Homo sapiens: one gene and its partners. The protein of the gene in region 3 interacts with the protein of the main gene of each other region in a biochemical or structural test. Each region holds a gene or a part of one and is shown on either strand. Other genes may lie near its edges.

Evidence for each region.
Region 1: the proteins of PACSIN2 (region 3) and EHD1 form a complex in vitro, tested with the Homo sapiens proteins (one study listed by BioGRID).
Region 2: the proteins of PACSIN2 (region 3) and TRPV4 interact in a test that uses a peptide from one of them, tested with the Homo sapiens proteins (one study listed by BioGRID).

Annotation. Positions count from the first base shown.
Region 1 is NC_000011.10:64,854,622-64,861,621, forward strand, and holds part of EHD1 (EH domain-containing protein 1), read right to left. Parts: intron 5,716-7,000; coding exon 5,303-5,715; intron 866-5,302; coding exon 701-865; intron 237-700; coding exon 1-236. UniProt on the Homo sapiens protein: ATP- and membrane-binding protein that controls membrane reorganization/tubulation upon ATP hydrolysis. In vitro causes vesiculation of endocytic membranes. Acts in early endocytic membrane fusion and membrane trafficking of recycling endosomes.
Region 2 is NC_000012.12:109,782,589-109,788,398, forward strand, and holds the end of TRPV4 (transient receptor potential cation channel subfamily V member 4), read right to left. Parts: intron 4,309-5,810; coding exon of another isoform or gene 4,288-4,308; exon of another isoform or gene 4,250-4,287; coding exon 4,122-4,249; intron 1,850-4,121; coding exon 1,728-1,849; intron 1,191-1,727; coding exon 1,033-1,190; 3' UTR 501-1,032; downstream 1-500. UniProt on the Homo sapiens protein: Non-selective calcium permeant cation channel involved in osmotic sensitivity and mechanosensitivity. Activation by exposure to hypotonicity within the physiological range exhibits an outward rectification.
Region 3 is NC_000022.11:43,004,720-43,012,707, reverse strand, and holds part of PACSIN2 (protein kinase C and casein kinase substrate in neurons protein 2), read left to right. Parts: intron 1-7,988.

The sequences.
Region 1 (7,000 bases), on a different chromosome or scaffold from region 3:
CACTCCACGTCGTCGATGCCCTCGCCGGCCCCCTCGCCGTAGCCGTGCCCGAACGGCCCGTTCATGGTGCCGTCAAAGGCGCCGCCCTTGACCACCTGGGAAGGCATCAGGGACTCCTCCTGCCGCACCATCACCATCAGCCGCGCGATGTCGTTGGCCAGCATGTCATCCACCGTGTCCAGCAGCTTGGGCTTCAGCGCCTGGAACTTGCTGAAGTCCTGGGTCTGCAGGAGTTCCTGTGGGCGGGGGAGGAAGGACAAGGGCTGGGAAGGGAGGCCCCTCCCAGACTCCAGGCCAAGTGGTTCCAGTCAGGGCTTCACAAGCATAAAGTGCTGCTCCCCCACACTAGCAGGGGCGACTCGGCAAAACCATCTGGCCCTTGGCTCTCTAACCTGTACACAGGAGGCACCTCCAGCTCTTTCCTTGCAGGGCTGCGGCAAGGATTCATGGACAGGGCACCAGAGCGCCTGGCATGGCCCTGCCCTCCCCCCACCACGCAGGGTGAGTCACCACATTCCCCTCTGCAGTGTCACCGCCTGGGTCAACTCTGAGTTGGGTGGGGTGCTGGTGATTAACCCAGCTGCTTCCGTTCAGGGAGGCCCTTCCCCATGGAGATGGGATTCCCTCCAAATCCAGTGCCCTGGGCCTTCCTTCTGCCCTGATGGCCACCAGCCTGCATGGGGCCTCGGGACAGCCGTACCTGCATCTTGCGGAGGCTCGGGAAGTCCCCAGGGGAGATCTGGTGCTCGCGCTCAATCTTCTGGTAGATCTCTCCGAGGTTGTTCACCAGCTCTTTCTTTTTGCTCTCTTTACCAAAGACATTGGGCATCTCTTTCTTGAGGGAGCTGATGATGTAGGCGTGAACCTGTGAGGACGGGGTGAGCATCAGGCGCTCTCTTGGCCCAGGCTGCCCCCGAGAGCAGAGCCTCCAAGGACACTCCAAGGATACTCCAAGGTGCTCGCTCAGGAACAGGGAAGCAGGAGGGATGGGTCAAGCTCAAGGCCGCTACCACCACCGGCTCCCACAGTCCTAGGAGCAGACACAATCTGGCAAGAGCCACAGCTGTCCACTGCCACAGGACAGAGGACAGGACAGGAAAACGCACTTGAAACAGAAGACAACAGCCTTGGCCTTGCACGGATCATTGTGATGATTCAGGAAGAGTAAAACCCAGTCTGTCAACCCAAAGAAGGCAATTTGTCGTGTACCACTGGGCACATCACACACCCTCTGTTCAACCCTCACCACGCATCACACACCCTCCGCTCAACCCTCACCACGCATCACACACCCTCCGCTCAACCCTCACCACGCATCACACACCCTCCGCTCAACCCTCACCACGCATCACACACCCTCCGCTCAACCCTCACCACGCATCACACACCCTCCGCTCAACCCTCACCACACACCCTCCGTTCAACCCTCACCACAGCCCTGCGGGGTGGGATTCTCCCAACCCGGCCCTAAGCAAGGCTGGGAAAGGCTGCCTGGGGTGCTTGGCTCCCACATGGAGGAGCTGGGATTGGAACCCCGGGCTGCTGAAGGTGCCCCACAGCCCATGTTCTTCTGTTTCTCTGCAAGCCCCCTTCCCCCGAGCTGCCCCCTCCCACGCAGCAGAGCAGGGAGCAGGCTTCCTGCAGGGCCCACCAGCCTGCACGTCCAAATCCCTGCTGAGTGCCGATGGAGCCCACAGAACTCCAATGGGCCCGTGCCACGCTCCACTCCATCATCACAGCTCGGATGACGAAGGATTTGAAAAATCCCAAAAAGGCTTCTCCTGGTGGTTGCCAGCTTTATCCAAGCATCAATACCTTGCTTAGGCATGTGCCTGTTCAGGGCGGCACCCCCTTCATTTCCCTGCAGCAAGCTGGGAACCTGGCAGCCCTCGAGAGTAGCCCAGCCCTCAGATCCCTCGGCCTTGCCAAGTCGTGTCCAGCCACAGAGGGCTGCGGCCAGCCAGCCTTGCTGCCCTTCTCCCCGGCTCCAGCCCATCCACCACCCCGCTCAGCCTGAGCCTGTGCCCTGGGTGGGGGCCTGGCTGAGAACTGCCTGAGGGAGGCAGCCCCGTGCCATGTGGGTCTGGATCTAGAGTCTCCCCAGGGACACTGTGGCAGGCAGATCCCAGGCCGGTGGGAGTCATCACAGAGAGCACCACTCACTCCAGGAAAAGGAAGTGGCAGGTGTGAGGCAACACTGGAGGCCACAGGGTTTTCCAGGCGCGGTGACTCAGTGTGCCTGGGGCCTGGCAGTCACACATGGTCTCACAGACGACCAGGCAGGGGCTCATGCCTGCCCCTTGTCCTGTCTGTCCTCAAAGGTGGCTGAGCAAGGGAGCTCTCTCTGCCCTGCAAGGAGAGAAACTCAGCTAGGGCCACACCCACACCCCTCAGCTCAGGACGTCCTTTGTCCTTTGAGGCCAGGGTCAGTCACCTGGGTTTTTGTATGGGTTCCTCTCTCAAAGCTGGCTCCACTCACAGGGAGGCTCCAGAAGGGAGAGATCTAGAAAAACATCCAGCCAGCCGGGCGCGGTGGCTCACGCCTGTAATCCCAGCATTTTGGGAGGCCGAGGCAGGCGGATCACCTAAAGTCAGGAGTTCGAGACCAGCCTGATCAACATGGTGAAACCCCGTCTCTACTAAAATATAAAAATTAGCTGGGTGTGGTGACGGGCGCCTGCAATCCCAGCTACTCAGGAGGCTGAGGCAGGAGAATGGCTTGAGCCTGGGAAGCGGAGGTTGCAGTGAGCCGAGATTGCGCCACTGCACTCCAGCCTAGGTAACAGAGTGAAACTCCATCTCCAAAAAAATCAAAAAATAAAATAATAAAATTAAAAATAAGAAAAACACGCAGCCCTCTGTCCTCCAGAGCCGGCATCTGACCCACGCCCGTGCACACAGCTCACGGAGGTTCAGGCCAGAATGAGAATTCCTCATCTACAGGGTGAGGTGGGGCCCAGGGTACTTGGGGCACAATGGGAGGACAGTGGTGGCAAAGGATGAAGGGTCAGTTCTCACTGCTCAGACCAGGTAGCACCCACATGCCCTCTGACTGGCCTCCAGACAGAGTGGGTACGAGGGCCACTGTGCTCAACGCCTGCAGTCTCCATGCCTCTGAGCAGGCAGGGACATGGGCTCCCCAGGAAGTGCCCATCCTCAGTCCTCAGTTATATTCTGGAGATCAGGGGACTGTGACCCTGGCCACAGGCACATCTGTCACTGAAGCCTTCATGCCCACATGATGTCTACCCTGGTACCCCCTGCATGCCATGAGGTGGGGGCAAGCACCCTGCTCTGTTGAAGAACTGGGGACGTATCACCAAAGGGCCTGGCTTGGCAGGCAGGACAGTTCCCCAGCCACGCTCCGGCCTGGCTGGCCTGGAGATAGGAGCTACGGCAAGGGCCTTTTTTTTTTTTTTTTTTTTTAAATTAAATAGAGACAGGGTCTCACTAGGTTGCTCAGGCTGGTCTCTAACTCCTGGCCTTAAGGGATCCTCCTGCTTTGGCCTCCCAAAGTGCTGGGATTACAGGCGTGAGCCACCATGCCTGGCCAGAGCCTATTTCTTTTCTTTTTTTTTGAGACAGAGTCTTGCTCTGCCACCTGGGATGGAGTGCAGTGGTGTGATCTCAGCTCACTGCAACCTCTCCCTCCTGGGTTCAAGTGATTCTCCTGTCTCAGCCTCCCAAGTAGCTGGGATTACAGGCACGCACCACCACGCCCGGCTAATTTTTGTATTTTTTTTAGTAGAGATGGGGTTTTGCCATGTTGGCCAGGCTGGTCTCGAACTCCTGACCTCAGGTGATGCGCCCACCCACCTTGGCCTCCCAAAGTGCTGGAATTACAGGATGAGCCACCATGCCTGGCTGGAGCCTATTTCTGAAACAACCGAGCCCTGTGCTAAGAGCCTGAAAGAATAGCTAGGTGCCCTGCTGATACAAATGTGGGCTTGGTCACTTCTCAGCTGTTCAGACAATCTGTGTCAAACACTCCTGTCCACGGGGTCAACCCCAACCACAGCCGGGACTGTCACTCATGGTGACTCGTCTAGGCTGGCTCACGATAGGGTGCTATCCAAAGTCAGACACGCCAAGGGCATGTGTTCTGTCATTCTGTGTTGGAAGGGCCCGCTGGTGGCATTAACCTTTGTTTCCTGGCCCCACCCACACCGGCTCTCACTCAAGTACTTGGTCAGCCACTGAGATTCCAAACCCTTTGGCCATTCAGAGGCTGCTGATAGGTGCCACCAGGCCTGGGCTGCCAGGAGACCTAAGGATGGTCTGCAAGGCCTGCTGAACTGACACTGCCTCAGCGTGACCTTGGCTTCCATGCACAGTGCTCCCCGGGCTGCAGGCTGGCACCCTGTCTCCTCACGAGCTGCTTCCTGTCACAGCTTAAGCTTCAGCTCCTGCCAGGCCCCCCCAGCCCTTCTACTCCACTGGGACAGCCCCTAGCGCCAGCTCCCGCAGCAGCCTGTGCTCGCTCCGAGACGACACAAATAACTGATGTTTATTTTTTGTTTGCGTGCTCTGCTTTCCCCATGAAGGCTGAGGAGTGGACAGGGGCTGTGTGTCACTCCCCGCCAGTACCCGGCATCCAGCACTGTGCTGAGTGCACTTCAGGCTCAGTAAACCCCAGAGGGGTAATCCCAGCACTCTGGGAGGCTGAGGTGGGCAGATCACCTGAGATCAGGAGTTTGAGACCAGCCTGGCCAACATGGTGAAACCCTGTCTCTAATAAAAATACAAAAATCAGCTGGGCATAGTGGTGCGTGCCTGTGATCCCAGCTACTCGGGAGGCTGAGGTAGGAGAATCATTTGAACCTGGGAGGTGGAGGTTGCTATGAGCCGAGATCATGCCACTGCACTCCAGCTTGGGCAACAGAGCGAGTCTCCGCTTCAAAAACAAAAACAAAAACAAAAAACCCTAGAGGGAAGCCAACAAGCCTTAGAGCTCTATCCCCCAACACTCCATTTCTGAGGCTGCCTCCTTTGCTTCAGCGGTAACTTCCTGTGTGCTGTTTCTGTGTTGTAAGCACAGTCAAACCCTTCCTGAAAGTAGATGGGGTATAAACCACAAACAGAACAGGTTTAGAGGGAGGCCGGGTAGAGAATCTTAGTTAAGAGCAGGCTGCACGCGGGTGCTGACCAAAGACTGGTTTCTATAGAGGGAAACAGCGCAGTGCAGGTCTGCCTGTGAAGTGAGCTGGGAAGGGTCTCGGGCAATCCTGGGGCCCTGAGTGCCAGTCTCAGAGCCCCATGGCCCTGCCTGGCAATAGGCTGCTCCCCTCACCCCAGGGTCTACCTTGGCCAGCCGTGCCCGCTTGATCAGGTCATTGAGCTTCCTGAGGGCGGCGTTTCGGGGCAGTGACTGGATGTCCTTGAAGAGGTCCTGCTCCTCGGCCTCAAAGAGCTTGCGGTTGTCGGGGATGAGGAGCGGGTGGGACCAGAAGGAGCCGATGTAGACCCTGACCACCTCGGGGGTGTTGATGATCTTGCCCAGGGACCACATGAGGGCCCCGTACACCCGCATCAGCTGCTGCGTCTCGATCTGGTCTGCCTTGTTCAGCACCACGCGGATCTTGTCCTCATGGTTCTTCAGAGCCTTGATCACTTCCGAGAACTCATCGGAGATGTCCAGCTTGTGGGCGTCGAAGAGCAGGATGATGCGGTCCACACGCTCCGCGAACCACTCCAGGACGGCTGCAAAGTCATAGCCTGGGGGGAAGAGAAGGGAGAGCTCAGGGGCGCCAAGGGACCTGCTGCTCTGATGGCTCTCATCTCCAACCTGGCCTGGTATTTCTCAGCCTGAGATAGTTTTTAAAATTCCTATAGGCCGGGCGTGGTGGCTCACGCCTGTAATCCCAACACTTTGGGAGGCCAAGGTGGGAGGATCACGAGGTCATGAGTTTGAGGCCAGCCTGGCCAACATAGTGAAACCCTGTCTCCACTAAAAATACACAAATTAGCCGGGCAGGGTGGCGCGAGCACTCAGGAGGCTGAAGCAGGAGAATCGCTTGAACCCAGCAGGTGGAGGTTGTGGTGAGCCAAGCCCATGCCACCGCACTCTAGCCTGGGTAAGAAGAGCAAAACTGTCGCGAAAAAAAAAAAAAAAAGAAAAGGCCAGGCACAGTGGCTCACACCTGTAATCCCGACACTTTGGGAGGCTGAGGTGGGTGGATCACAAGGTCAGGAGTTCAAGACCAGCCTGGCCAACATAGTGAAGCCCTGTCTCTACTGAAAATACAAAAATTAGCCCGGCATGGTGGTGGGCACCTGTAATCCCAGTTACTCGAGAGGCTGAGGCAGGAGAATTGCTTGAACCTGGGCGGCAGAGGTTGCAGTGAGCTGAGATTGCGCCACTGCACTCCAGCCTGGGCAACAGTGTGAGACTCCATCTCAAAAAAAAAAAAAAAAAATAGCCGGGTGTGGTGGCACATGCCTGTAGTCCTAGCTACTCAGGAGGCTGATGCAGGAGAACTGCTTGAAACCAGGAGGCAGAGGTTGCAGTGAGCCGAGATTGTGCCACTGCAGTCCAGCCTGCGTGACACAGCGAGACTCCGTCTCAAAAAAAAAAAAAAAATTCCTAGGTGTTCATCTAGACAGCACAGCACCCTGAGGGCAGGATTATCTCCCCTATTCCTGCCCCCACCATAACACTCCCCAACCCATGTAGCACTTGGCATAAACAGGTGCTAATGCAAAGGTCGTCCCACAGTGCAAGCTCTAAGGTGGGTCAGAGGAGGGCGAGAGTGAGGAGGAGACCCAGCACTGTGCTCAGCACAGCACAGAGGGTAGAACATAGACTCCAGTGTTGCCACCTGCCTGCTGTATGCCCTGGGACGGTAGTGACAAGAGGCGCCTGCAAAAGTAACTGCAGCTGCTACTTTTTCAGTGCTGATGTGCCAGGCTCCCCATTTTGCAGGAATCTCACTTATTTTCTGCAACAAGGGTTGGCAAACTACAGCTCAGGGATCAAACCTGGCCCACCACCTGTTTGTAT
Region 2 (5,810 bases), on a different chromosome or scaffold from region 3:
GCAACCATCCTCCCGCCTAGCAGGACAGCCCTCCCAGTATAATTGTCCCCTGATGAGCACCAGAGTCCCCGCACCTGCACTGTCAACCCCTGGCCAGCGTTACTCTCCCCTGCCCAAATGTACTGTCTCCATGGGGATCATTATCCCCCAGCCAGCACTACTGTCACCCCCACCAGCATCACTCTCGCCCTGCCAACATGACTCTCCCTGGCCAGCATTATTACCCCCACCAGCATCACTCTGCTCTCCTCCCTCCACCCCCACCTTCCCCACAGCCACACCAACCTCAGCCACCTCTCAGGCCACCACCACCACCATCACAACCACCCAGTCCAGCCCCCAACCACCAACACTCTAAATGCCTCCCGGTCAGGACTTCTGCCCTCACTCTCACCCCTGCCCCTGGCTCCCCCCAGGCATTTCCTAGCTCTCCCATCTCCCTCGCTGCAGTCTCATGCCTGTTACCATCCCTCCCACCCCTGCCATCATCCTGCCATCTCCACCGTCAATGAATAAACATTTATTGAGCACCGGCAAATCCCAGACACTACAGAACACACAGAAGGCATGGCCCCACGCCGAGGGCCCCAGCCCCTTGCAAAGCTGCCACGCTGCCAAAAATGGTGGCGCATGCAGCTCAGGCGCAGGCTGAGGCTGGGGCTTGGCCGGGCAGTGCACTTGGAACGGGGTCCTAAGGCCTCTGCCAGGTTCCAGCTGGGGCAGGGGTCACGTCGCTTCCTGAGAGCAGAGCAAATAAATAATGGAGAGGCAGGGGCTGGGGCCTGAGGTGGAGGGGCTCTGGCGTTGGCTTATGTGACTCCATAGGAGCAAGACAGGTGGCCGGGAGCCCCCACCCCAGGGTGGGGAGGCAGAGCCAGGGGACCACAGGGTCCTGGGGCCTCCCTGGCACCTCCACTGGTCCCTCGCCTCTGGGGCCAAAGCAGGGTGTGGGGGGACACCCCAGAAGGCACTGCTGAAATGCGGCTGGACTAGAAATGAGTGGGCAGAGAAGCTGGGGCTGGGCTGCAGTCCCTAGAGCGGGGCGTCATCAGTCCTCCACTTGCGGGGGTAACCCTGCTGGTGGCCATCGCAGCGGGGGTTCCCCATGCTGTCCAGAGGCACCACCACCTCGTCCGGGTTCGAGTTCTTGTTCAGTTCCACCACGCGGGGTACCACCGAGGACCAGCGATCTGCACCGAGAGCACATCAGAGGGAGGGGTGGGGGTTGGTGGAGAGAGAGCGTGCGTATATTGAGTGCCTACTGTGTACTGGGCACTCCACAGTGTTCTGAAGGGGGGATGTGACTATGCTCATTTTACAGAGGTGGAAACTGGGGCTCAAGAGAGGTCAAGGTGCCTCCCCAGGAGAGAATGGAGGAACCAGGATTCAAGCCTGGAGCCGAATGCCCTGAGTGCCTGTGTCCTCTCCAGCTGCGTCTCGCGTGCTCATGGCTTACTGGACAAACAGGAAGGTTTTCTCCACACAGGGATGGCTGAGGAGCTCGTCCTCCCTCCCCAGGCCAGCTTATGTCAACAGTAGGGAGGGCCAGGATGAAGCCACGTAGGTGAGGTGCCCCAGGCATTCACAAGCAGCAGAGGAAGCTCAGGGGCACACTCTCTCATTCTGTAGACACGGACACTGAGTCCCGGAAAGAAGCAGGACTGCTCAAAGCAAATTCGTGATGAGAATGGACTGGGGCTCCCCTCCGCACCCGCCCCTCCACTCACCCCTGCGGAGGCGGCCCACGGTATGCGAGAAGCCATAATACTGGTAGGTCTCATTCTTGCCCGGGTCCTCGTTGATGATGCCCAAGTTCTGGTTCCAGTGAGACCAGTTCACCTCATCCACCCTGGCAGGGCCCAAGCAGAGGGTCATGGGGAACCCCTCAGAGACGCTCTCCATGCCACCATCCCCAGCACACCCTCCTATTTTTTTATTATGGTAACATATACATAACAAGGCTGGGCGTGGTGGCTCATGCCTGCAATCCCAGCACTTTGGGAGGCCGAGGTGGGTGGGTCATTTGAGGTCAGGAGTTCGAGACCAGCCTGGCCAACATGGTGAAACCCCACCTCTACTAAAAATTAAAAAAAATTAAAAAAAAAATTAGCGGGGCATGGTGGCGGGTGCCTATAGTCCCAGTGACCCGAGAGGCTGAGGCAGGAAAATCACTTGAACCTGGGAGGCAGTTGCAGTGAGCCGAGATCACGCCACTGCACTCCAACCTGGGGGACAAAGCAAGACTCCATCTCAAAAAAAAAAAAAAAAAGACGTGTGTGTGTGTGTGTGTGTGTGTGTGTATACACACACAAAAAATTTGCCATCTTAATCATTTTTGAGTATACAATTCAGTGGCATTAAGCACATCCACATTGTGTGACCATCACAGCTATCTATTTCCAAAATTCTTCCATTCCCCCAAGCAGAAATTATTTTTTTTAACCTTCTTTTGAGACAGGGTCTCACTCCATTGCCCAGGCTAGGGTGCAGTGGCACGATCACAGCTCACTGCAACCTTGACCTCCCAGGCTCAAGTGATCCGCCCACTTCAGCCCCCCATGTAGCTGGGATTACAGGGATATGCCACCACACCTGGCTAATTTTTTAAAAACGTTTTGTAGAGATGGGGTTTCACTATGTTGGTCTTGAACTCCTGGGCTCAAGCAATCCTCTTGCCTCGCTTCCCAAAGTGTTGGTATTACAGTCACCACGCCTGGCCCAGATAATATTTCACTGTACACATAGCCCACATTTTGTTTATCCACTCATTTTTTTATATATTATCTTTTTTTTTTACATATTATCTTTAATTTTTTATCCTATCTATTCATTTTTGTTTGTTTGTTTTAAGGCAGAGTCTTGCTCTGTCCGCCAGACTGGAGTGCAGTAGTGCAATCTCGGCTCACTGCAACCTCCACCTACCAGGTTCAAGCGATTCTCCTGCCTCAGCCTCCCGAGTAGCTGGGATTACAGGTGCATGCCACCACTCCCGACTAATTTTTGTATTTTTAGTGGAGACAGGGTTTCACCATGTTGCCCAGGGTGGTCTCAAACTCCTGACCTCAGGTGATCCACCCACCTTGGCCTCCCAAAGTGCTGGGATTACAAGCACGAGCCACCACACCCAGCCAAGATTTGAGCTTTGGATTCAAACTGAACAGAGGCTGGGTGTGGTGGCTCACGCCTGTAATCCCAGCATTTTGGGAGGCTGAGGTGGGAAGATCGCTTGAGACCAGGAGTTTGAGACCAGCCTGGGCAACATAGCAAGAACCCCATCTCTACAAAAAAATTAAAAATTGGTCGGACATGGTGGCATGAGGAGGCTGAGGTGGGAGGATCGCTTGAGACCAGGAGTTGGAGGCTGCAGTCAGCTATGATCACACCACTGCACTCCAGCCTGAGCAACCCTGCCTCTAAAAACAAACAAAAAATGGAATTGAACTGATCGGATGGCCTAGGAGGTGGGTTCTATTATTGTTCCCATTTCACAGATGAAGAAACTGACTTTGTCTGACTCCAAACATTCTGCTTATGCTCCATGCTGACAACCACTTTACAATGAATGAATCAACTGGAAAGAAAAGATTCATGAAGGGGTTCCCCTAAGAAGCTGGCACTCCCTGTGCCTCTGGAACACGGAGTCATTCTGCAGATGGGCTGGGTGAGGTCTCCAGCCCTGGAAACTGCACATTCCTCAGCTTCCCATTTCACCGAGGGCACTAGAGCTCACCCCACTGTTTGGTAGATACAGGGTGATGCTCTAAAATGAACCCACCATCCAAGTCTCTGCTTCCCCCTGAGCAAGAACAGGGGAGCCTGTGGCGTCCCGATGCGCGTCGGGCACTGGCTGAGCACTTCTCACGTGCTGACCTGTCTAATCCGCACCGCCAGCCTAGGAGCCCGTGAGATCATTGTCTCATTCCACAGATGAAGAAACTGAGGCTGAGAGAGGTGGGCTGACTTGCCTGAGATCGCCTGGTGGAAATGAACTCTGCTCGGGCCTCTTGGGGCCTCAGTGGCTCCAGAAATTGCAATGGGTAGACGACGCTGGAGCAGCAGGGGCCCCGAGCCAGTGGGGACAGTTCCGCCCTGCCATCCTGGCCCCACTGCCCCAGCCTCACCTGAAGCACCACCTGCGGTCAGGAGTGCCGTCCGAGCTCTTGCCCACGGTGACCATCTCCCCAGAGCGGAAGGCCTTCCTCAGGAATACGGGGAAGGAGCGCTCAATGTCCAGGATGGTGGTGGCCCACTGCGGGGAGGGAGGGTCAGGAGGGACATCGGTGAGCCTCACAGCCTGCGCCTGCCGCTCTGGTGGCAGAAATGAGACAACGGGCCAGGGTGGGCCCAGAACTAGGCATTTAGACTCCTACTCCCCACTAGACACAGGGTTTATAAACTCAAATACCCACAGGTGGCAGGCAGGAAAACAAATGGGTGAAACAGGATCAGGTGCAGAAAGGCTGCCGCCCAAGCCCTATCACACTTACACAGCAGTTGCCTCTCAGTGAGGGAGGGGTAGAGACTGGGGAGAACAGGGAGCAAATGCCCACGTGTAAGGGGGCAGCTGCCACTCACCCCACCTGAGGGCTGCCAGGCAGGAATCCGGACCCTGCACTGCCTGGAGCTTCCAACTTTTCAAGAAAAGCCAGAAATCTGGGTTTTCATAGGGAATCTCTTAATTTTTAAATTTTGCAGTTTTTTGTTGTTGTTGTTGTTTTTAATATAATGGTCTGATGCTGGGTGCAGTGGCTCACACCTGCAATCTCAGCACTTTAGGAGGCCAAGGCAGGTGGATAGCTTGAACTCAGAAGTTCAAGACCAGCCTGGGCAACATGGTGAAACCCCATCTTTACAAAAAATACAAAAATTAGCCGGGTGAGGTGGTGCACACCTTAGCCCCAGCTACTCGGGAGGCTGAGGACAGAGAATCACTTGAGCCTGGGAGGCAGAGGTTGCAGTGAGCCAAGATCACACCATTGCACTCCAGCCCACAGGATGCCCAGTTTGCATCCTGTGAGTAATGCCCAGTGGGGAAACTGAGGCCCAATGAAGTAAGCAATATAGATAAAGGTTAAGAGCAGGCCAGAGCTGTTTCCCTCAGACCCAGTCCTGGGAGGACAACCTTGGGCCCTTTTTTCTCACTGCACCATTTTCCTGAAATGCACAGTCAAGGTAAACACGGGTGCTGTATTCCTGGGCCGTGGGGCAGCACTGTTTATTAGGACACCAGGTTTGTAGGCTGCACCTGGCCTGGGAGGGCTGTGATCCCAGGGCCTGTTCTTTCCAGGATTGCATAGAAAGCTTTTGGTAAGTAAAAACTTTCTGCAGCTCCCCGGGCCAAGGCGGCCCCTGTCCCCATTGGTTTCTCCTCTAGGAAGCATGCTCACAGTTGCTAGAAAAAGACCCCCATGAGAATGCTGACATCCCTGTGCTGGAGTGCTAGAGCACAAAAGCTGCCCCTGGGCTCAGCGTGGGACCCCTGCTGAAACGCTGATGCCCACGGAGCACTTTCTGAGCCGGCAGAAGTCACTCAGTCATGCTAGGTGGAGCCGACTGTGTCCTGTGAGCTGGACCACAAGGAGAATCTGAGCCCACTGCTGGCAGCCAGGCAAGAAGCCACCTCAAAATTCACTAGGCAGCTCTGGGAAGTCAGCAGCAGCCTCTGATGCCCATTTTACCGACAGAGAAGTGGAGGGAGAATGAGAAGACACTGCTTGCTCAGAGTGGAAGGCCGAGGAAGCCAGTCGGGTGGGTCTCCTCGGAAGGACGAGGGTGGCTGGTAGAGTGGGGCTGGGGGCCCTGGGGCCTCA
Region 3 (7,988 bases):
GCACTCCAGCCTAGGCAACAAGAGCAAAACTCCTGTTTCAAAAAAAAAAAAAAATTAGTCTGGCGTAGTGGTGCACACGTGTAATCTCAGCCTCAGCTACTTGGGAGGCTGTGGCATGATAATTGCTTGAACCTGGGAGATGGAAGTTGCAGTGCACTGAGATCACACCACTGCACTCTAGCCTGGGTGACAGAGTGAGACTCTGTTTAAAAATAAATAAATCTAAAAGTATGCATATATTTAAAAAAAATTCTGGATTTCCACCAACATAGCATTCTGCAGGGAGATAACATGAACTTTTCCCTAATCCTGGATACCCATCCACATCTCTGATGGCCAGGCATTTCTGGAGTGGGAGCAGAGGGGCATTTGTCCTTGCTTTTTTTTTTTTTTTTTTTTTGAGAGAGAGTCTCTGCCCAGGTTCAAATGATTCCTCTGCCTCAGCCTCCTCAGTAGTTGGGATTACAGGCGCCTGCCACCTTGCCTGGCTAGTTTTTGTATGTTTGTATGTATGTATGTATGTATGTATGTATGTATGTATGTATGTATGTATTTATTTATTTTGAGACAGAGTCTCGCTCTGTCGCCCGGGCTGGAGGCAGTGGTGCGATCTCAGCTCACTGTAACCTCTGCCTCCCAGGTTCAAGTGATTCCCCTGCCTCAGCCTCCTGAGTAACTGGGACTACAGGCATCCACCACCACGCCTGGCTAATTTTTGTATTTATAGTAGAGACGGGATTTCACCGTGTTGGCCAGTATGGTCTCGATTTCCTGACCTTGTGATCCACCTGCCTTGGCCTCCCAAAGTGCTGGGATTACAGGCACCTGCCACCTTGCCTGGCTAGTTTTTGTATTTTTAATAGAGATGGGGTTTTACCATGTTGGCCAGGCTGATCTGGAACTCCTGACCTCAGGTGATCTGCCCACCTCAGCTTCCCAAAGTGCTGGGATTACAGGCGCCTGCCACCTTGCCTGGTTAGTTTTTGTATTTTTAATAGAGATGGGGTTTCACAGTGTTGGCCAGGCTGATCTGGAACTCCTGACCTCCAGTGATCTGCCCGCCTCGGCCTCGCAGATGTCCTTGCCTTTTGTTTCTTCTCTATACCTTGAAAGTCTGTGCTGTGTTAAGGGCGTCATGCTCAGGCTTACTGATTCTGAAGGGGTTATCAGTGGATGATTCCGGATGTTGTGGAATATCAAACAGATCGAAAAGTTTCTTTAATAATAGTGATGGCACCTTGTGTTTAGAGTTCGCAGTGGCATTTACCAGATGCTCTCTGGCCACCTTCATGTGAACCTCCCAGCTGACTCGGGCCTGCTTTATCTGCCATCAGATTGTAATGGCAGCTTTGTGGAGGCCGCCCTGTAGATTATGCGATTAATGACCACATTCATGTGAGCAATAGTGCTGGCTTAGTTTTTTTCCAGTTAGGTTGTTTGGAATGGTAGCTGCATACCTGAGGGCAGTGCAGCAATGCCTTAGTTACGAAGGCAGTTTGCATTCCACAGGTAGAGTCTTTCCTTATGGCCAGGGCACTGATCCCTCACATACCAGAAAGTATCATTCGTCCCTGCCCCAGACAGACTCCAGATGCGTCCCAGTGGTGGTTCTTGGGATAGTTTTGTAGGAATTTCTGCAGAATTTTAGTGTTCAGATGAGTATGCTCTGTCTGTGGACTGGAGACAGGCTTCAAAGAATTCTCAAATTATTCTGCACAATACATCATTTTTTGGTATCTCTGCAGTTCCAAAGGTAACTACTTGAGGGACAGTGGCCACCAAAGAGCACAAGTTTTGACATTTTGATGAAAAGCACACATAAAACAAATAAAAACCACCTTTCCTTAAGTTACCTATTGAATTGTGCTTATTCCCATAAATGCATGTTCATCTGTTTGCTTAATAAAACTTAAAGCACCATAGAGTCTTTCTTGTTTCCTAGAATAAGGTCTTTTTTCTTTTCCTTTCTTGTCTTTTTTTGTTGTTGTTGTTGTTGAGACGGAGTCTCGCTTTGTTGCCCAGGCTGGAAGTGCCCTGTGGTGTGATCTTGGCTCACTGCAGGCTGCGCCTCCCGAGTTCATGCCATTCTCCTGCCTCAGCCTCCCAAGTAGCTGGGACTACAGGCGCCCGCCGCCACACTTGGCTAATGTTTTGTATTTTTAGTAGAGACGGGGTTTCACTATGTTAGCCAGGATGGTCTTGATCTCCTGACCTTCGTGATCTGCCCGCCTCTGCCTCCCAAAGTGCTGGGATTACAGGCGTGAGCCACCGTGCCTGGCCGGTCTTTTTTATTTTCAATTAAAAAAAAATATATATATATATGTATTTTTAAACAGAGATGGGATTCCGCCATGTTTGCCAGGCTGGTCTCAAACCCCTGGCCTCAAGTGATCCTCCCATCTCGGGTTCCCAAAGTGCTAGGATTACAGGTGTGAGCTACCACACCTGGCCTATTTTCAATCCTAAAAAAATCATTTGCGTGTTTCTTGATTTTAGGCACTGAACTAGACGGAGATGAGAATATAGAAATAATAAAATGGGGCTGGGCGCTGTGGCTCACACCTGTAATCCCAGCACTATGGGAAGTAAAGGAGCAGATCACTTCAGGTCAGGAGTTCGAGACCAGCCTGGCCAACATGGTGAAACCCCATCTCTGCTGAAAATACAAAAATTAGTCGGGTATGGTGGCGTGCGCCTATAATCTCAGCTACTCGGGAGGCTGAGGCAGGAGAATCACTAGAACCCGGGAGGCAGAGGCTGCAGTGAGCCGAGATTGTGCCACTGCACTCCAGCCTTGGGTGACAGAGCAAGACTCTGTCTCAAAAAAAAAAAAAAAAAAAAATAGAAAAAATAAAATGATGTCTCAACTATCAAAGACCTCGCAAGAAGCCTTAAAAATGATAAATAAGGCTAGAGATTTTGCTGTACCTTTGGAAAGTGCATGTGTGGTGGTTTATAGTACATATTCTGTGGCCAGATAAAATTTATATGATTATTTTTCCTCCCAAGAATATGAGATGACAGAGGGGGAGGAGCGTGGATGGAGACTAGGAGCCTTGGGCTCTTGTCCAGCCTTTCCCTGACCAACCCTGAGGTCTGGGACAATCAGCACAGAACTCCAGGTCTCAGTTTTCATATTTGTAAAATGAAGGACTTAGAGGACCTTCACCTTTTGCAAATCTGATAGCAACTGTGACCCCTTCCCACGAAGGGGGACAGCTTCATAGGCGTGGACCCAGATTAAGAACTGGATTATTCCATCTCTAAGCTCCCTCTCACCTGTGATATTCTGTAATCCTATTTTCCTGGTCATCTTTGAGCTAATAATAATGATGACTTGTATTTATAGAAGATGCACATTCCAAAGCACTTTCACCTCTCATTCTTTTGTCCTCAAAACATTTCTGAGTGGTACAGGTGGCAATAGATATTCCTTCCTGTGATGAAGAAAGTGGGCCAGGCTTGGTCAGCACGTTGATGGAGCAAACAGCCAGAGGCCGTCCTGGGACCAGAACTGGGGCTCCTGGTTGCCATCCTGGGGCTTTTCCATTAGGTTTTGCTTCCTTGGTGGTTGTCATTATGAGTTATGTTTGGCAGTTCAAATATCCCAGAATGTGTCACTCGTAGAGGAAACTATTTGTTCATCTGCCGGAAAGGACTGTTTTTCTCTCTGAATTTGGATCACTAAACACCTTTTCTGTATGTGAAAAGGCTACTTATTTGTTTTTGTTATTTTTTCTTGCCACATTTTTCATAGGGACAGTTTGTAGGGCTTGAGTGTTTTGAGCAGACTTATTTAATGCTTATTGATGAAAGAGTACATTAAAATGACTACTTCTCAGTTGCTTAGCACTTGAGAAAGTTGTGAAATAAATGTTAAGTAAAAATTCCAAATGTCTCACTTGTCCTATCCAAGTATGTCCTCACAGATGAGATGCTTTCTGCAGTCTAGGAGGCCCCTCCCTGGGCCCAGAGCCGCTGGGTGGGTTTGAAAGTTGGGTGTGGATTGTGCCAGTGGCCAGGACTGTCCAACAGTGGCTGCTTGTGGCCTTCTGGCTAGATTCCTAACATTTTATGGACTAATTTTTTTGGTTTATTGAAAGAGTACACATTCTGAGCTATATAAAGAGCTCATATATGTAAAAGAACACTGAACTTAGGCCGGGCGTGGTGGCTAACGCCTGTAATTCCAGCACTTTGGGAAGCTGAGGTGGGCAGATCACAAGGTCAGGAGTTTGAGACCAGCCTGGCCAATATGGTGAAACCCCATCTCTACTAAAAATATAAAAACTAGCTGGTCATGGTGGTGCGTGCCTGTAATCCCAGCTACTGGGGAGGCTGAGGCAGGCGAATGGCTTGAACCCAGGAGGCGGAGGTTGCAGTGAGCCGAGATTGTGCCACTGCACTCCAGCCTGGGCGACAGAGTGAGACTCTGTCTCAAAAAAAAAAGAAGACCACTGAATTTTAGAGCCTCACAGATGTTAGGTGGCTTATTTCTGATGAAAATAATCATAATAAAGATGTTTTTTATTTTTATTTTTTAAAAGAATACTTCTGATGTATTTCTGAAAGCTGTTTTGAATACTCAGACATGGAAGCTGATAGTACTGCACACAGCAGGCATCACTCAATGTGGAGTGTGTGTGGAGAATCCACCTGTCTTCCTGTTATGTCATGTGTGATGTGACTATTGATAGAGTTGCAGCCAGCTGGGGCACTCCATTAAGCTGCCCGTGGAAGTACCTGCTTTTTATTTTCATTTCACTCCCTGGACTGAGAGTGTTTGGAGGATATCTCAGTGGCTCATGTGGAGGGAGCATCTGTGGGTGGAAGGCAACAGGCAGGGTGAGTCAGAGGTAGTGGTCCTGGCCACTGCATGCCTGGTGCCCCTGGCTCTGCCTGCAGCTCTGGAATCCTGAGATAAAGATGATGGCTGCTCTGTAAAGGCAGCTCAGTATAGGCAGCAGGCCTGGAAACTTCTCTTTTCATTGTGGCGGTACCAGATAGTAGTGTGTACAAAGTACTGCACGACAGAGGAGGGCGGGTCTGACTGTCCTCAGGACACTACAGAGAGCTGACCTTCAGGGAAGTGACTTGGGAGGGATTGTGCCAGAGCCACAGGTGCTCTCCAGGTGGGGCTGACGTGAAGGACCATTCTGGGCAGAGCTACAGAGCTCTGAAGAACAAGGAGTGGCTGGGAGAGAGGGGTCACGCCTGTAATCCCAACACTTTGGGAAGCTGAGGTGGGCGGATCACTTGAGGCCAGGAGTTTGAGACCAGCCTGGCCAACATAGCAAAACCCTGTCTCTACTAAAAGTACAAAAATTAGCTGGGCGTGGTGGTTTGTGACTGTGAACCCAGGTACTCGGGAGGCTGAGGCAGGAGAATCGCTTGAACCTGGGGGCAGAGATTGCAGTGAGCCAGGATAGTGCTACTTCATTCCAGCCTGGGTGACAGAGCGAGACTGTCTCAAAAAAAAAAAAAAAAAGAACAAGAGGTGTGTGTGAGAGGGGCTGCTAGGGGCAGGGAAGGCTCCAGGTTATGACCTGCCTTATATTCTCCTGGAGGACAGTTCACTGGGGAGCAGTTTCTGGGTATTTAAAATACCGGGATGAAGATCTTCAGAGAAGCAAGATGTCAGTTGAGAAGTCAGGGATGCAGATGGGGGAGGGGTGATTCAGGTGACTCAATTTCACAAAGGTCACCTCTGTCTCTGGGAGTCTCAAGGATTGCCATCTGTGTTCCTAGGAAGCAGTGGCTCCACTCTAATGAGAAGGGCTTTTCGAGTGGGAATGGCCTCAGCCTTGACTCATTCTCTTAACCTGCATTTACGTGTTTGGTTGAGAATGCAGTAGCTGTGTGGGTTCTGCTTCTCTTTCTTTTTTCTTTTTTGAGACGGAATTTTGCTCTTGTCGCCCAGGCTGGAGTACAATGGTGCGATTTCGGCTCACTGCACCCTCCACCTCCCAGGTTCCAGTGAGTCTCCTGCCTCAGCCTCCCAAGTAGCTGGGATTATAGGCATGCGCCATCATGCCGGGCTAATTTTTGTATTTTTGGTAGAGATGGGGTTTTACCATGTTGGCCAGGCTGGTCTCAAACTCCTGACCTCAAACGGCCCGCCTGCCTCTGCCTCCCAAAGTGCTGGGATTTCAGGCATGAGCCACCGTGCCTGGCTGTTTCTCTTTCCATATGGTTTATGCTTACAGATCCTTGAGGTTAATATGTCACTTTCACTGTTAGTTCCTACAGAAGAAAGGTAATTTTGCAATAAGGTTTTGGAGGTTAGGAACATGGTTTTGGAGTCATACAGCCCTTGGGTGTGGGTTCGAGCTCCATCACTAGGTGACTGTGCGGCTTTTGGCCAAATGTTTCAATGTCTCCAAAACTTGAGTGTCTTAGTCAGTTGGGGCTGCTATAACAAAGATGCGGTGGCTTGTAAACAACAGAAATTTCCTTCTTACAGTTCTGTAGGCTGCAAGTCTGAGATCAGGGTACCAGCATGGTTGGGTTCTGAGGAGGGTCCTTTTTCATGTTGCGGATTGCTGACTTCTTATAGCTTCACATGACAGAAAGAAGGCGAGAGAGCTCTCAGGTACTTTTTATAAAGGCATGAGTGGCTGAGTGCAGTGGCTTATGCCTGTAATCTCAACACTTTTGGAGGCTGAGGCAGGAGGATCACTTGATGCCAGGAGTTCATGGCCAGCCTGGGTAACATAGTGAGACCCTATCTCAACAAAAACTAAAAAAAAAAAATTGTAAGGACACTAGTCCCATTCATGAGGGCCCTGCCTAATTAGCTTCCAAAGGCCCTACTTCCTAATGCCATCAAACTGAGGGGTAGAATTTCAACATATGAATTTTGAGGGGATCCATACATGCAGTCCTTTGCACCAGGATACTGAGAGCCCTTCCTCATAGGATTTTGGCGGGGCAGCATGAGGTGATGGACCCCAGGAGCCCAGCATGTGTGCCTGGTCACAGTGCTCATTCAGTCACTCTCCTATCAGTCTACGTAAGTGAATTTGCCAGCAAACTATACCTTTAAAGTGCCCAAAGTGATTTTATCCAGTTCTATTTAAAAATCCTTCCAGAACTTTTTGGACCTTTCCTTGGTGACTCGGGGTCACGGGTGTAGTCGCAGGTCATTGGTGTGGGTGAGGCCTCCTGCCCTGGCCCTGCATGGACTCCCCTCATATCCTGGCACTTACAGGGCCTGTCTTTCTCCCCACCACCTTTTGTAAGCTGCTGTTGGCACCTGGCCCTTTTGTTGGGGTAAGGGCCTGATGATGGTCATATCCTCCCTGGGTTTTGAGGGCAGCCTTGCCATGCAGAGAGGCCTTGCTCTCTTCTGGGTTGGTAATTCTCTGCCTGAGTTTAATGTGATGGATTCTAGAAAGCCTGACCCTGGGGTGAAGGGATGTTGCTTGACTACACGTAGTGACTCAGGATTGGAAGGGAGTACTGGTAATGATAGCTTATCCCTAGGTGATGGGAAATAGGACTTAGAAAGCAAATGATAAAGGTGTGAGCACTGCTCACCTGTGTGAAATTGTATTAAGATAACACGCAGCAGTGATAGTTAAGGCTTTAGAATTATAGGAAGTTTCTCCTTGTTTTCCACACAGTACCATTGCCCTTTTACTTTTAGATTAATGTTTAAGTAATAACTTTGTAATTAAAATAAGTATAAATAAAAAGAGCTTGGTTGTCTAGGCATTTGCATTTTACCAAGAAGCTTTCCATAGCCCTCATTTTGTTTTCAGGACAGCCTTGTTGATTTGTTTCCCTTTTCATTGTTTAGAGGAGAAAGAGAGTCAGAGCTAAAGGGGTGAGTGGTTTTGCCTGAGGCCACCTGCCAGGACCCCATATGGGCCTCTGAGCCCAAGCCCAGAGCGCCCAGGGAGGCCTGTGACGGGGCCTCTGCCTGGACCTGCAGGGTGGTCTTTAGATAGGATCAACTGTGTATTCTGAAGTTTCCTATTGAATGA